Linked DNA regions of Homo sapiens. The protein of the gene in region 1 purifies or fractionates together with the protein of each later gene. This does not show direct contact. Each region holds a gene or a part of one and is shown on either strand. Other genes may lie near its edges.

The links. Proteins that work in one complex are often made in the same cells at the same time.
Region 2: the proteins of TIMM44 (region 1) and COL1A2 purify together in Homo sapiens (affinity purification with mass spectrometry; 2 studies listed by BioGRID and IntAct, with this or other methods). This does not show direct contact.

Annotation. Positions count from the first base shown.
Region 1 is NC_000019.10:7,933,639-7,940,686, reverse strand, and holds part of TIMM44 (mitochondrial import inner membrane translocase subunit TIM44), read left to right. Parts: intron 1-2,489; coding exon 2,490-2,660; intron 2,661-5,541; coding exon 5,542-5,622; intron 5,623-6,448; coding exon 6,449-6,598; intron 6,599-6,683; coding exon 6,684-6,823; intron 6,824-7,048. UniProt on the Homo sapiens protein: Essential component of the PAM complex, a complex required for the translocation of transit peptide-containing proteins from the inner membrane into the mitochondrial matrix in an ATP-dependent manner.
Region 2 is NC_000007.14:94,404,895-94,411,914, forward strand, and holds part of COL1A2 (collagen alpha-2(I) chain precursor), read left to right. Parts: intron 1-304; coding exon 305-358; intron 359-778; coding exon 779-832; intron 833-1,355; coding exon 1,356-1,409; intron 1,410-2,952; coding exon 2,953-2,997; intron 2,998-3,288; coding exon 3,289-3,342; intron 3,343-3,441; coding exon 3,442-3,486; intron 3,487-3,875; coding exon 3,876-3,929; intron 3,930-4,427; coding exon 4,428-4,526; intron 4,527-4,669; coding exon 4,670-4,714; intron 4,715-4,828; coding exon 4,829-4,927; intron 4,928-5,347; coding exon 5,348-5,401; intron 5,402-5,525; coding exon 5,526-5,633; intron 5,634-5,994; coding exon 5,995-6,048; intron 6,049-6,161; coding exon 6,162-6,260; intron 6,261-7,020. UniProt on the Homo sapiens protein: Type I collagen is a member of group I collagen (fibrillar forming collagen).

The sequences.
Region 1 (7,048 bases):
CATTCCTCTTCAACTGTGCTTCTGTTGGTGTCTCAGCATCGTGAGGACAGAAGCCCAAAACCTGACTCCCTTCCCCAGACCTGTACATTCGGGCAGCGCGTACATTCTGTCTCCCTCTCTCTCTGCGCCCAGAGCCTCAGCTCAGCTGCCTCCTTGGAGGCAGCTACCTACCTCTCCAGTCCTGTCCTGGGGCCATCGTGGGTGTGGGACAGGACCTGTGACTCTTTCCCTTTCTTGTCTAGTCCCCCGCCACACACTCACTCCCATGGTTTGTAGCCCAAGAGTCTCTGGTAGGGCTGCGATAAGGTTGTGTGGTCCTGGATGATTTTACTTAGAACCTGGGTTTCCCCTGGAGAAAGGCTGGCCAGGGTGGCATCTGAATGGGACTGCAGCCTGCTGACAGGAGGCCTGGCCACCTGTCCTGGGGAGCAGCACTGGGCTTTTTTTTTTTTTTAAGATAGGGTCTCACTCTGTGGCCCAGGCTGGGGTGCAGTGGCACTATCACGGCTCACTGCAGCCTTGAACTCCTGGGCTTAAGCGATCCTCCCACCTCAGCCTTCTGAGTAGCTGGGACCACAGGTGTGTGACTCCACGGGGCCTGAGCACCAGGCTGGATGCAGCTTTCTCTTGTAGCTTGACAGGAGCCAGGGAGGGGGATCCCACCTGGAGCTGGTATACCCAACACAGCTGTGGAAAAGTTGACCACAGGCGGCCCCTTCCGCCTGATTGGATTATTGTATGATCATTCATTAAACTGTTTCTCTGTTGTTTTTTTGAAACAGAGTCTCACTCTGTCGCCCAGGCTGGAGTGCAGGGGCGAGATACCGCTCACTGCAACCTCCACCTCCCGAGTTCAAGCAGTTCTCCTGCCTCTGCCTCAGTAGCTGGGACTACAGGCAGGCGCCGCCACACCTGGCTAATTTTTGTATTTTTAGTAGAGACAAGGTTTCACCATGTTGGCCAGGCTTGTCTCGGACTCCTGGCCTCAAGTGATCCGCCCACCTCGGTCTCCCAAAGTGCTAGGATTACAGATATGAGCCACTGTGTCCAGCCTGCTTTTTTTTTTTTTTTTTTGAGATGGAGTCTCATTCCATCACCCAGGCTGGAGTGCAGTGGCACAATCTTGGCTCACTGCAACCTCCGGCTCCTGGGTTCAAGTGATTCTCCTGCCTCAGCCTCCTGAGTAGCTGGCATTACAGGCACCCACCACCACGCCCAGCTAATTTTTGTATTTTTAGTAGAGACGGGGGTTTCACTATGTTGGTCAGGCTGGTCTGGAACTCCTGACCTCAAGTGATCCACCCACCTTGGCCTCCCAAAGTGCTGAGATTACAGGCAGGAGCCACTGCGCCCGGCCTTGTTTTGCTTTCACAAGGCTTTATCTTTTGAGCAGTTTTAGGTTTACAGAAAAATCCAACAGAATGTCCAAAGAGTTGCCATGCCCCTCCTCTCCCATCTGGCACACAGTTTTCTATTCTTCACGTCCTGCATTAGTGTGGAGCATCTGTCACAATTGACAGGATGTTGATACATTATTATTAATAAATGCATGGTTTACCTTCCGGTTCCCTCTTGGTGGTGTACATTCTCTGTGATTACAGTATCATAAGAGTAGTTTCACTGCCCTAACATTTTTCTGTGTTCCCCCCTACTCATCTCACCCTCTTCCTACCAAACCCCTGGCAACCACTGATCTTTTACTGTCCCCTTAGTTTTGCCTTTTCCAGAACGGTCTATAGTTGGAATCAGACAGTATGTAGCCTTTTCAGATTGGCTTCTTTCACTTAGTGCAATATACATTTAAGGTTCCTCTGTGTCTTTTCACAGCTTGAGAGCATATTTCTTGCTTGTTTTTTAAATTATTTTATTTTATTTTATTTGAGATGGAGTCTCGCTCTGTCACCCAGACTGGAGTGCTGTGGCATAATCTTGGCTCACTGCAGCCTCTTCCTCCTGGGTTCAAGCAATTCTTGTGCCTCAGCCTTCTGAGGAGCTGGGACTAAAGGCACACACCACCATGCGCAGCTAACTTTTGCATTTTTAGTAGAGATGAGGTTTCACCATTTTGGCCAGGCTGGTCTCGAACTCCTGACCTCAGGTGATCTGCCCGCCTCAGCCTCCCAAAGTACTGGGATTACAGGCGTGAACCACCGCGCCCAGCCTGTTTTTTAAATAGGGTGCTGTGTTGCCCAGGTTGGTCTTAAAACTCATGACCTCAAGCAATCCTCCCTCCTCAGCCTCCTAAAGTGGCTGAGAGCTCATTTTTTTTTCAGCACTGAATAATATTCTGTTGTCTGGATATACCACACTTTTATCACCTGCTGTTTCTTTGTTTTTTATGATTATTATAAAAGAGATAGCTAATCATCATTAAATGTATATCAACCGAAAAGAGAACATTTAAAAAAATCCCTGAGTCCCTCTGTGGGGCATTTCATTCTATGTTCTACTATGTTCTTTAAATTTTTTTTCTTGTACATTCTTTCTAGTCCAAATCATATTCTTCTGGAAACAGAAAAGGCTTTCTGTCCGGCTTGCTAGATAATGTCAAACAAGAATTAGCCAAAAACAAAGAAATGAAAGAAAGTATAAAAAAATTCCGTGACGAGGCCAGAAGGCTAGAAGAATCAGACGTGCTCCAGGAGGCCAGAAGGAAATACGTGAGTTTCTTTGCTGCTTTTTTTTCCCTCACCCAGGCTGGAGAGTAGTGGTGCGATCTCGGCTCACTGCAACCTCCACCTCCCAGGTTCAAGTGATTCCCCTGCCTCAGCCTCCTGAGTAGCTGGGCTTACAGGCGCGCACCACCACGCCCAGCTAATTTTTGTATTTTTAGTAGTGAAGAGGTTTCACCATGTTGGCCAGGCTGGTCTCGAACTCCTGACCTCAAGTGATCCGCCCGCCTCAGCCTTCCAAAGTGCTGGGATTACAGGCGTGAGCCACCGCGTTGGGCCCCTTTGCTTCTTACCTTTCTTGGTTGACATGTTTGTTTCCAGGGCCAGGGTTTCTCCAGGCCAGGGACAGCCAGAGGAGCTCAGGGCTGGACGGTTGGGGGCAGGGTGGCTCGTGAGGAAGTGAGGTCACTGCTCTGATGCACTAATGAGAGGGAGCCAGGGGACAGGTGCGGGTCTCCAGGCCTCTGGGTTCTGCCATGAGACCATGCAGCGTTCTGTGCAGCTTGAAGCGTGGTCCCCAGACCAGCAGCAGTGGCTCCTCCTGGGAGTGGATGAGCAGTGCAGAGGCTCACACCCTCCCAAACTGCCAGGCCAGCGCCCGCATCTTCACAGGCCCCCAGGCAACGCATGCACACCAGCTATGGGATGCAGCGCTCCTGAGAGCTCCCAGCTGTAGCCCTCTGAGTGGAGCCTGGTGGAAACTGGGTGATGGTGCTGGTATTTTATTTTATTTTATTTTATTTTATGAGATGGAGTCTTGCTCTGTCATCCAGGCTGGAGTGCAGTGGCGTGACCTTGGCTCACTGCAACCTCCAGCTCCTGATTCTCCTGCCTCAGCCTCCCGGATAGCTGGGATTACAGGCGCCCGCCACCACACCCAGCTGATTTGTTGTTGTTGTTGTTGTTGTTTTTTGAAGCAGAGTCTTACTCCATTGCCCAGGCTGGAGTGCAGTGGTACGATTTTGGCTCAACACAACCTCTGCCTCCTAGGCTCAAGCGATTCTCCTGCCTCAGCCTCCCGAGTAGCTGGGATTACAGACACACACCACTACTGCCCAGCTAATTTTTGTATTTTTAGTAAAGACAGGGTTTCACCATGTTGGCCAGGCTGGCCTTGAACTCCTGACCTCAAATGATCCACCTGCCTTGGCCTTCCAAAGTGCTGAGATTACAGGTGTGAGCCAGTGCGCCCAGCCCTATATATCTTTTTATAGAGACGGGGTTTCACCATGTTGGCCAGGCTGGTCTCAAACTCCTGGCCTCAAGTGATCTGCCCGTCTCAGCTTCCCAAAGTGCTGGGATTACAGGTGTGAGCCACTGCTCCCAGCCTGTCATTATTAATTGTCACTTCTCTTCTTGAGCAGCTGCCAAGCCCTGGCTTCTGGGAATGGCTCTGCATTCCTTTATTTGTAAGGGCCCTGCGAGGCAGTTACAGTGTCCCCATTTTACCAATGAGCAGCTGAGCCTCAGAGATGCAGGCACCTGCCACGGGTCCCTTGCATTTTGGTTTGGTTTGGTTTCATTTGTGTTTTTTTGTTTGTTCGTTTTTTGTTTTTCTCCTTTGAGATGGAGTCTTGCTCTGTCAGCCAGGCTGGAGTGCAATGGTGCGATCTCGGCTCACTGCAACCTCCGCCTCCCTGGGTTCAAGCGATTCTCCTGCCTCAGCCTTCCAAATAGCTGGAATTATAGGCGCCCACCACCACGCCAGGCTAATTTTTGTATTTTTAGTGGAGACGGGGTTTCATCACTTTGGCCAGGCTGGTGTTGAACTCCTGACCTCAGGTGATCCATCCGCCTTGGCCTCCCAGAGTGCTGGGATTACAGGCATGAGCCACCGTGCCCAGCCTAGTTTGGTTTTTTGAGACAGGGTCTTGCTCTGTCACCCTGGCTGGAGTGCAGTGGTGTGATCACAGCTCACTGCAGTTTTGACCTTCCCATGTTCAGGTGATTCTCCCACCTCAGCCTCCTGAGTAGCTGTGACTAAAGGCATGGGATACCACGCCTGGCTAATTTTTTTATATTTCTAGAGACAGGGTCTCGCCATGTTGCCTGTGCTGGTCTCGAACTCTCTGGGCTCAAGCGATCCTCCCATCTCAGCTTCCCAAAGAGCTGGGACTACAGCTCACATGCCCAGCCCCTCTTTATCATTAATGCAGGGGTCATCTGAAGACATAGCAGGCTGAGTTTGGAGTGGGATGGATGGAGCGGGAGACATAAGACCAAGCTGTGGTGGCTGGAGGCTGGATGAGGGGCACAGTGATGACAGGCAAGGCCACCTCCTACCACCCGGTGAAAGGTGAAGGCTGGGCCTCCTGTTCTCAGGAGGTAGCTGCCAAGCGGGGACCCGAGTCTGCCGGCCTTCTGAGCAAGGAGCTCACCGCTGCTGAGACCCTCAATCCAAGCCATGTGGGCAGCCGGGGGCCCTGGAGGCAGCACATGCTGGCAGGTGCGGGGAGGGAGGGGCTGCGGAGAAGATGCTTCTTGGACCTTTGGCTGTAAGAGAAATGTCACTGCCGTGTCAGAACATACAGACTTAAAGACACAACGGTTGGCCAGGCACAGTGGCTCACACCTATAATCCCAGCACTTTGGGAGGCCGAGGCGGGTGGATCACTTGAGGTCAGAAGTTTGAGACCAGCCTGGCCAACGTGGTAAAACCCTGTCTCTACTGAAAATACAAAAATTAGCCAGGCATGGTGGTGGGCCCTGTAGTCCCAGCTACTCGGGAGGCTGGGGCAGGAAAATCGCTTGAATCTGGCAGGAGGAAGTTGCAGTGAGCCGAGAGCGTGCCACTGTACTCCAGCCTCGGCAACGGAGACATTGTCTCAAAAAAAAAAAAAAAAAAAAGGACACAGCGCTCTTTACCTAGAAAACCATCGAGTCAGAAACCGTGCGGACGAGCGAGGTGCTACGGAAGAAGCTTGGGGAGCTGACGGGCACCGTGAAGGAGGTAACAGTTCCACGCCCGCCTGGAGCCGCTGGGGCCATCAAAGTCCCCTGGCCGCTGGAGGCTGGAGGAAGAGTCGGCTCCTGGGTGGGGGTGGCTTGGCAGCAGTGGGTGGCATGGGGCGTGCTGCCACCCTCGGGAAGGTTTCAGGAGTTCCCGGCACATGCAGGGTGAGGTCAGACTGGCAACCTTGCATGACCGTTGACCCAGGGAGTCGGCAGCAGTAAGTGCTGCTAGCCAGGACTCGAGGAGAACATGAAAATGTTTTTCCTGCCTAAAAATAGGAGGAGAGGGGCCGCTTCCACCCCCTCCCGAGGGTAGAGGCGGGAGGCAGGATTCCTGGGGTGCTGCGGCTCTCCTCGGTTGTCTGTTCTGTCCAGCTTTGCGCAGCATGGGGCGCCCTCACCGCCGTTCTTTCCCCGGGGTCCCCTCCTTGGGAATCCTTGCTGCCAGGCAGTTCCCGGGTCTCCAGAGGACTCCTGCCCATTTTGGAAAGGGGCCAGCAGACCCAGCGTCTCACCCAGAGCCCAGGGCCAGCATCCCGGAAGCCGTGGCGGTGTGCTCATGGCTCTGGGGGTGCCGGTGTGCTCATGGCTCTGGGGGTGCCGGTGTGCTCGTGGCTCTGGGGGTGGCGGTGTGCTCGTGGCTCTGGGGGTGCCGTTGTGCTCATGGCTCTGGGGGTGCCGCGTACCACAGGAGCACAGAAGGCCTCTGCCGGCCTCGGGGAACCAGATCCGCCCTTCTCTCCGGCAGGAATTCATTCCTCCTGCCCCGCCCCCCGGCCGCCAGGGCCGGTGCCAACGCCCCCTCTCTGTGTCTGTCTCAGTAGAGCCTTCACGAAGTCAGTAAAAGTGATCTCGGCCGGAAAATCAAGGAGGGCGTGGAGGAAGCAGCCAAGACGGCCAAGCAGTCGGCCGAGTCGGTATCCAAAGGCGGGGAGAAGCTGGGCAGGACAGCGGCCTTCAGAGCCCTCTCCCAGGTGAGCCCAGTCCTGGGCTAGGGCATGCAGCCTGGGGCGGCCGAACCCAGACACCCACCCCAGCCCCGCTGTGCCTCCCTCGCAGGGGGTGGAGTCCGTGAAGAAGGAAATTGACGACAGCGTCCTGGGACAGACCGGGCCCTACCGGAGGCCCCAGCGACTCCGGAAGAGAACGGAGTTTGCGGGAGATAAGTTCAAGGAGGAGAAAGTGTTTGAGCCAAACGAGTAGGTACCAGCCCGTGGCCCTCGCTGCCCCCATTTTGGGCAGCTTTCACTGCTGTCCATTTCGGGAGCCCACCAATGGTTCCCTCCTGAGTCCGTTTCTTGAGTTTGCCTTCTGCCCAAGGTTCCCGGCTCCCTCGAATTTGAGGGTGAGAGGTGAGGGCGGGGTCCTCAGAGCCCCTAGGTTTGAGGTCTCAGCTGCCTGCTGTCCTGTACTGCCCCCTGCCT
Region 2 (7,020 bases), on another chromosome or scaffold:
AAGTATTTACTCTTAAGCACTTTCAAAATGCTATTTAAATACTCTTGCCTCAACAAGATTTTCTAGATTCAAATTAAGTATTCTGCCAAAAGCTGAATATGCCTGACAGAACTCTTAATGTATGGGAAATATTATTTTAATGAAATATTAACTAACCTACTTGTATTAAGGGAAAGATTAAATATATATCTGGATCCATATTTTTATGTGATAACTTTCTCCCCTTTTGTAAAAACCAAGATTCCCCCATTTTGTCTGATAGTTTACCAAGAAGAAGTTGACTCTACAATGTTTTCATGTTTAGGGTCACCCTGGAAAACCCGGACGACCTGGTGAGAGAGGAGTTGTTGGACCACAGGTGAGACTTTTTACATTGGTAGATAGCACAAACATCATAGGCCTATAAGATAGTTGCTAAAACTAGCATCAATCTAAATGACAACATAGATGTCACCCAAACTCATAACATGAATCGAAGGCATCTAATAAAGAAAAAAGCCTAGTTAAAAAAAAATGCATATACATTTTATTCATGCAAATAATGGAATATAAATGACAGCAAGCATACCATAAGCAACTAAATTGTGTTTTCTACAAATACCGTATTATTAGTTACTCACATTAGAGCAAGTTAATTTGTCACTCTGTGCTTAGAGGTATACTAGACTTTGGTTCAAAGCTTGAACTTTGATGAGAATAAATACTTTGGAGGGAAGAAGTCACTGTCTTTTTATTTATGGTAAAACATTATTCACCATCTTCTGTATTTCTTTCTAAGGGTGCTCGTGGTTTCCCTGGAACTCCTGGACTTCCTGGCTTCAAAGGCATTAGGGTGAGCACATTCTTTACTCAGAAGAGAGAAAATGCCTATTAATTTTTGGAAAAAACTCAAGTATGTTTAAAATCTTGGGTGACATATACTCACTTTCAAATCCCTGGAGTTTGCCAAAGGGAAGAAAGAGTTAAAGAGTCAGATTTCTTGAAAGTAAAGTGGGGTGCAATTTTTTCAGTCTGTTCATAGCTACCAAAAAACAGGCTCACTACAGAGAAAATTATATAGAACATGTATTACTTATTGAGTATTTACAACCGTCTGAAAATCATAAAATTATTAAGGATGGAAAAGATGTGAGAGAACACCTAGTCCTCCATCCTTCTCTCTCAATGGCAAGAAAGTTAAGTGACCTATCTAGGGCAATAGACTGAGTTTGCTGGGACCTGGAACACTGGACTTCTTTCTACTGCAGCAGACAAGACTTACCCAAGAGAGATTAATGGCAAAGATATACAATACAATTTTTATTTGACCAAACACTATCATGGAACAGCATTTTATAATAAGGCTTTCCTTTCAGGGACACAATGGTCTGGATGGATTGAAGGGACAGCCCGGTGCTCCTGGTGTGAAGGTAAATATTAAATTAGAAGCACTGTTTTTAAGCACTTGATTGAAATTCCCCATGACCTCCAAAAAAGTATATTATACTGAAGACTACCCATATTACAAAAAGTATTTTTATTTTTTTTCTTTCCTGTACTTCAAATCCCTCAAGGATGGGGACTATGAGAGTCTGTGAAAAAAGGTCAATTATTAATATTTATTAAAATTCAATATCTATTAAACAATTGAGATAAAAATAATATTAATAGTTTCTTGTTCCATTTCCTTTCCTCCCTCTATAATTCCAGTGTATCTCTGCAGCCAAAATAAAAGTAAATAAACATATAATCAGAGATTACGACACTCTGTATTATTTTAAACTGTAAATTCTCCTTTGCCACACACTAATTAGATAGGTACATTCATGTCGCTATACACTTTTCAACCTCTTTCCTGTGATTTATCTGTGCACACTCAAAAAAATTTTAATTAGGTAATTAAAGTCTCAGAAGTGTGTTATCTCTTGGCTAGGCTCTTCTCTGACAGCGTTTTCAACTATAAAATGTTCTCTTTCCTATTAAGGAGATAATGTGATATTAAAGTGAATACCAACGTAATTACAAATTAATGAGTAACGAATACTAGCGGGACCAGAAATGAACATGAATATGGAGAATCTATTCTAACTTTCCAGCTGCCACACAAATGGATAAGGTCAAACTCATTCTCCCAAGAGCCCGATATAACAGCTCAGACTACTAATCACTGTATCATAAAATGTTAGAGCTGCAAGGAGCTTTGGAGACCCCCTCATTTTGCAGAGGTGGGAAACTGAGGCTTCGTGAGAGCAATTGACTTGCCCAAAGTCACACATCTAGAGGTTAGAAAGTCATAGGCTAGAAATGATCCCCCCTTGCCACTTCAATGCTTATTCCCAAAGAATAGACTTCACATAGAATCCTGGAAATTAAGGGTCCTTATGAGGTCTCTTAAACCATATTTCCCCTATATCTAAATCAGATTATCTTTAAAAAAAGTTCTTTTACATGTGCCATAGTATTAAATCCCACTACTACTACTACTACTACCCTGGTTTTTACTCAGGATAAGAATATAGATTGGAAATAAATATGATGGCTCTAAAAAATACCATGAAGCTTCAATTTTTCATGCACATTTTATGAAAGTGATAACACTGAGTGTTCAAAATAACTTTAAAAAGGATAAATATGGTTACATTGAAAGCAAATTTATCCTTTGCCATCTCTTTTTATGATATTGTTTCTAGTATATAATTGATATCCTGAATCTAAGGGAGAAATTGGGGAGGAGGTACACTCAAATAACCACATCTCCTTAGAACCTGGATATGTGGTACTATCTGAATAAAAACTCATGTTAGCACATTTTAAAATCTGTGTGTCTGGCATAATTGAAAAACAATCTATATGTGTAAGAAATATTATGAAGTATATGAATGGTTCAAAGTAAAAAAAATAGAGTAAAATTGCACTATCAGGAAAAATAATTGTTATATTTAATGAACAAAAACTCAATCCTTCTCCATGTAGGGTGAACCTGGTGCCCCTGGTGAAAATGGAACTCCAGGTCAAACAGTAAGTATTGACTACTTCATTGTAAATTTAAATGTGTACACTCTTTATGAGATGGAACTTCTTTAATGTTTTTGCTAATCACTGTATCCTTCAGCATTGTATTCTTTGATGTTTTTCTAATAGCCTTCTGATACTTAATTGAAATCCACTACTGTTTAGTTGGAATTAGAAGGCAACTTATTTATTTTTAGTGTATTCTTGTACAGGTTGGAAACTGAACAAAGCAAATGATGCCTGTGACTTTTTTTAAATTAGCATTCTGGATTTTATTGAAAATATTTCTGCTTCTAGGGAGCCCGTGGGCTTCCTGGTGAGAGAGGACGTGTTGGTGCCCCTGGCCCAGCTGTAAGTGCTTCCATTTTTGTTCAGTTTCATCCTTTTAAAAAATCTTCTAATGGCTGTCATTTAAGTTTCCACCTGATCTTCCCTTTATTTTCTTCTTAGGGTGCCCGTGGCAGTGATGGAAGTGTGGGTCCCGTGGGTCCTGCTGTAAGTTTTGACACTGGGGAGTTTGAAAGGAGTTGAGAATGTGGGGTGGGTGCTGTCTTCTTCATTAATCTCTTACGAAATAGCATCATTTCAGACACTTTACCAAATGTTCTGTGAGGTCTTTTGAAGGCTCCATTTATAAGTAGTGTAAGCCATTTATAAGTACCTGAACTTTTGATTGATGTATAAAGCAAAATATCCCCACCCTGGATACCATGAATGTCTTGCCTTTGATGAGATCCTAACGACAACAGACTGGTTGTCAGTTTTTTTCTTTACTAATATAAACAGTGTCATGCCACTGTAAGCAACTTCAATCTTCTGCCATTGTTATTGTTTTCTTAATTTACTTGGAGGAAATTTCTTACCACCTTCTGCTTTGATTTCAGGGTCCCATTGGGTCTGCTGGCCCTCCAGGCTTCCCAGGTGCCCCTGGCCCCAAGGTAAAAACACTGGTGACCATTGTCACTACTTTGATAAACTTTTTACTGTGATGTGAAAGATTGGAACTGTGTTTGCAGATAAAGAGATAATTACGAAACAGTTACCTTAATTATTCCTTCCCTTCAAAATGGACATAGAATGACCAGTTTTCTCACTCTACATTTGAAATAGATCATTTCTCTGCACTGTGCACTGTGCCCATCGATATAGATGACAACATGGAAATTGTCTCTAGGACTAGTTAGTTAGGACTGACTGAGAACCAGAGTCAACCACAGAGAGACAGAAGGAGAGGGAAGGTAGTAACAGTAGCCAAGATGGCAGAATCAAGCAAGGAAAATAGGAAACCAAACTCAAATCTTGTAATAAAACGGATAAGAAAAATAATTGCAATTTTGAAGTTTTATGAAGACATTTCATAAAACTTGGCATCTTAAAAACAGATATGCTGTTTCATTATTTGCTGGTTAATTCCTTGGTTTAATTTCCTCTTTTAGGGTGAAATTGGAGCTGTTGGTAACGCTGGTCCTGCTGGTCCCGCCGGTCCCCGTGGTGAAGTGGGTCTTCCAGGCCTCTCCGGCCCCGTTGGACCTCCTGTAAGTAGCCACTGTCTTTAAACTTTATTGAGTAAAAGAAAACAAAGGTGGAGTATGGGGAAGAAGAAGAATGAAGATGGGGTCAAAGAAGAACCGAAATATTCCAATTAACTGATATCCTTCTCCTTTCCTTTTCCTCATAGGGTAATCCTGGAGCAAACGGCCTTACTGGTGCCAAGGGTGCTGCTGTGAGTATACCTGCGTAGCTAAAATGTGCTGCTATGATTTTAAAGGCATTTAATGTGTGCTGCCTCTACAGCCCATCACCTCCCTAATGGACCACACTGCATTTTCCTTCACAGGGCCTTCCCGGCGTTGCTGGGGCTCCCGGCCTCCCTGGACCCCGCGGTATTCCTGGCCCTGTTGGTGCTGCCGGTGCTACTGGTGCCAGAGGACTTGTTGTAAGTGGTCATGACTGTGGTTCTCATCATCCTGAAATACCACCTCTGCCATCATTTCATCACTATCTAGACTTCCACTTGTAGTTTTATTATTCCTATTTTTCTCTTCCTTAGCATTTTTAGTTTATATTTCTTATATATATATGTACACTCCCGTCTGCTATATGCACACAGACATGCCCTTCCTGTTATCTTAAATCATTACCTCAAGGTAAATGAGGCAAAGTTCTACAATATCAGTTTTGTCCCTTCGACCAATAATACCATTCCCCTGTACTCAATTTAAATATGAACAGGGTACATTTCCTAGAGAACTTGAGCTTCTCTTTACCTTGACCCACAAATATTCTAAGAGATTTGTCTGCAAGAGAGTTTCAACAAATGTTTGTCCTTTGACCACTGTTCTGTATTGAACCCTAGGGTGAGCCTGGTCCAGCTGGCTCCAAAGGAGAGAGCGGTAACAAGGGTGAGCCCGTAAGTAGCTCTATCATCACACTTTTATAAAGTTAATTGTTTTTCTCATTCCAGTTTCTCCAGCTGGACATAGTATTAAAATTATTTTTTTACTCCCTCTTCTTTTGTTCTTTTCATTAAACAGGGCTCTGCTGGGCCCCAAGGTCCTCCTGGTCCCAGTGGTGAAGAAGGAAAGAGAGGCCCTAATGGGGAAGCTGGATCTGCCGGCCCTCCAGGACCTCCTGGGCTGAGAGTAGGTTTCAAATGCTCCCAACACCCTAACACACCAGAGGCAGATTATGATACCCCTTCACTGGGAATTGGTCAAAATTACTGACTGTGTTTTCTTAGGCAAAAAAAGCATCTGCTTTCCATCTGCCTTATTAAATCAGTGACTCTCAATTTAATATGTTATAAAATTGGCCTGGAAACAATGTTGACCTACTTTTGCAGGATGCTCATCTATGAATTCCTCTAGGGGTTGGGTGAAGTGTTTTGGCTTGGTTTGTGTCTGTATCTCCCCTGTAAGGAGATCATGCTATTTTTTACAAACTCTACCTTATCAAAGCCAAGAGATTTCTTTAATTCTCTCTATTTCATGTACTTTCTTGCAGGGTAGTCCTGGTTCTCGTGGTCTTCCTGGAGCTGATGGCAGAGCTGGCGTCATGGTAAGCTGTCTATCACTTACTTCCTAGAAAGGGGCTTGCTGCTTCTGGTGGTGGGTGTGTCATTAGCTTTAGCATCCTCCTCCTCTATCTGTTTTTTTTTTTTTTTTGAATAGGGCCCTCCTGGTAGTCGTGGTGCAAGTGGCCCTGCTGGAGTCCGAGGACCTAATGGAGATGCTGGTCGCCCTGGGGAGCCTGGTCTCATGGGACCCAGAGTAAGTTTCAAACTGATTCTGAGCAAATCACACCTGGCATTACTTCCTTCTTTAAAGGGTTGGTTAATATTGAAGATAACAATAAAAACATCAAAAGTAAATTTGTTAGTAGTCTTGCTGACAGTTGCATTTTTGACTTTATCAAAGCTCAGTAGATATTTTCATGCATTTAATTAGTTCATAAATTTTCTATTTATTACTTGATACAATGGCTATGAGGTTTTTGGAAGAATAGATCTATTTTAATATATCCAAATTAGATTGGTCCTCCTATCAGCATGAATCTTTTATCTTAATTTGTGAGTTTTATATAAGGTGTTCATGAAATATATTAGGACTATACATTTTTGGTTTATTAGATTCATAAGTGAAGTCTTTTTCCTAGCAATCACAAAGTGCTGTAATGTATTCAGCATCACACTAGCTATGGAGAAATAACCTCTAGGTCCATAGACACACTAATCCATAGCAATAGAGTAATTTTTTTGCCTCCATTGCCTCTTATGGGTGAATATCAACTGTAATTGTACCATAAACAAGTAATAGGGACACCAAATATAGCAATAAGAAATCCACTTTGGAAATTGTTTACTAAAAGTATTAGTTTTTCTATTATGAGGTAAATAACGTGATACATTTTGCCCATATACATGTTGCTTAACAGTTTCTTGAGATATCTATAAAAGGATGAGTTGCACTAAATTTCAATAAAAGGAAAGCCACAAAAAAATAGAAGAAAAATTTCAGAACTCTTTTCACA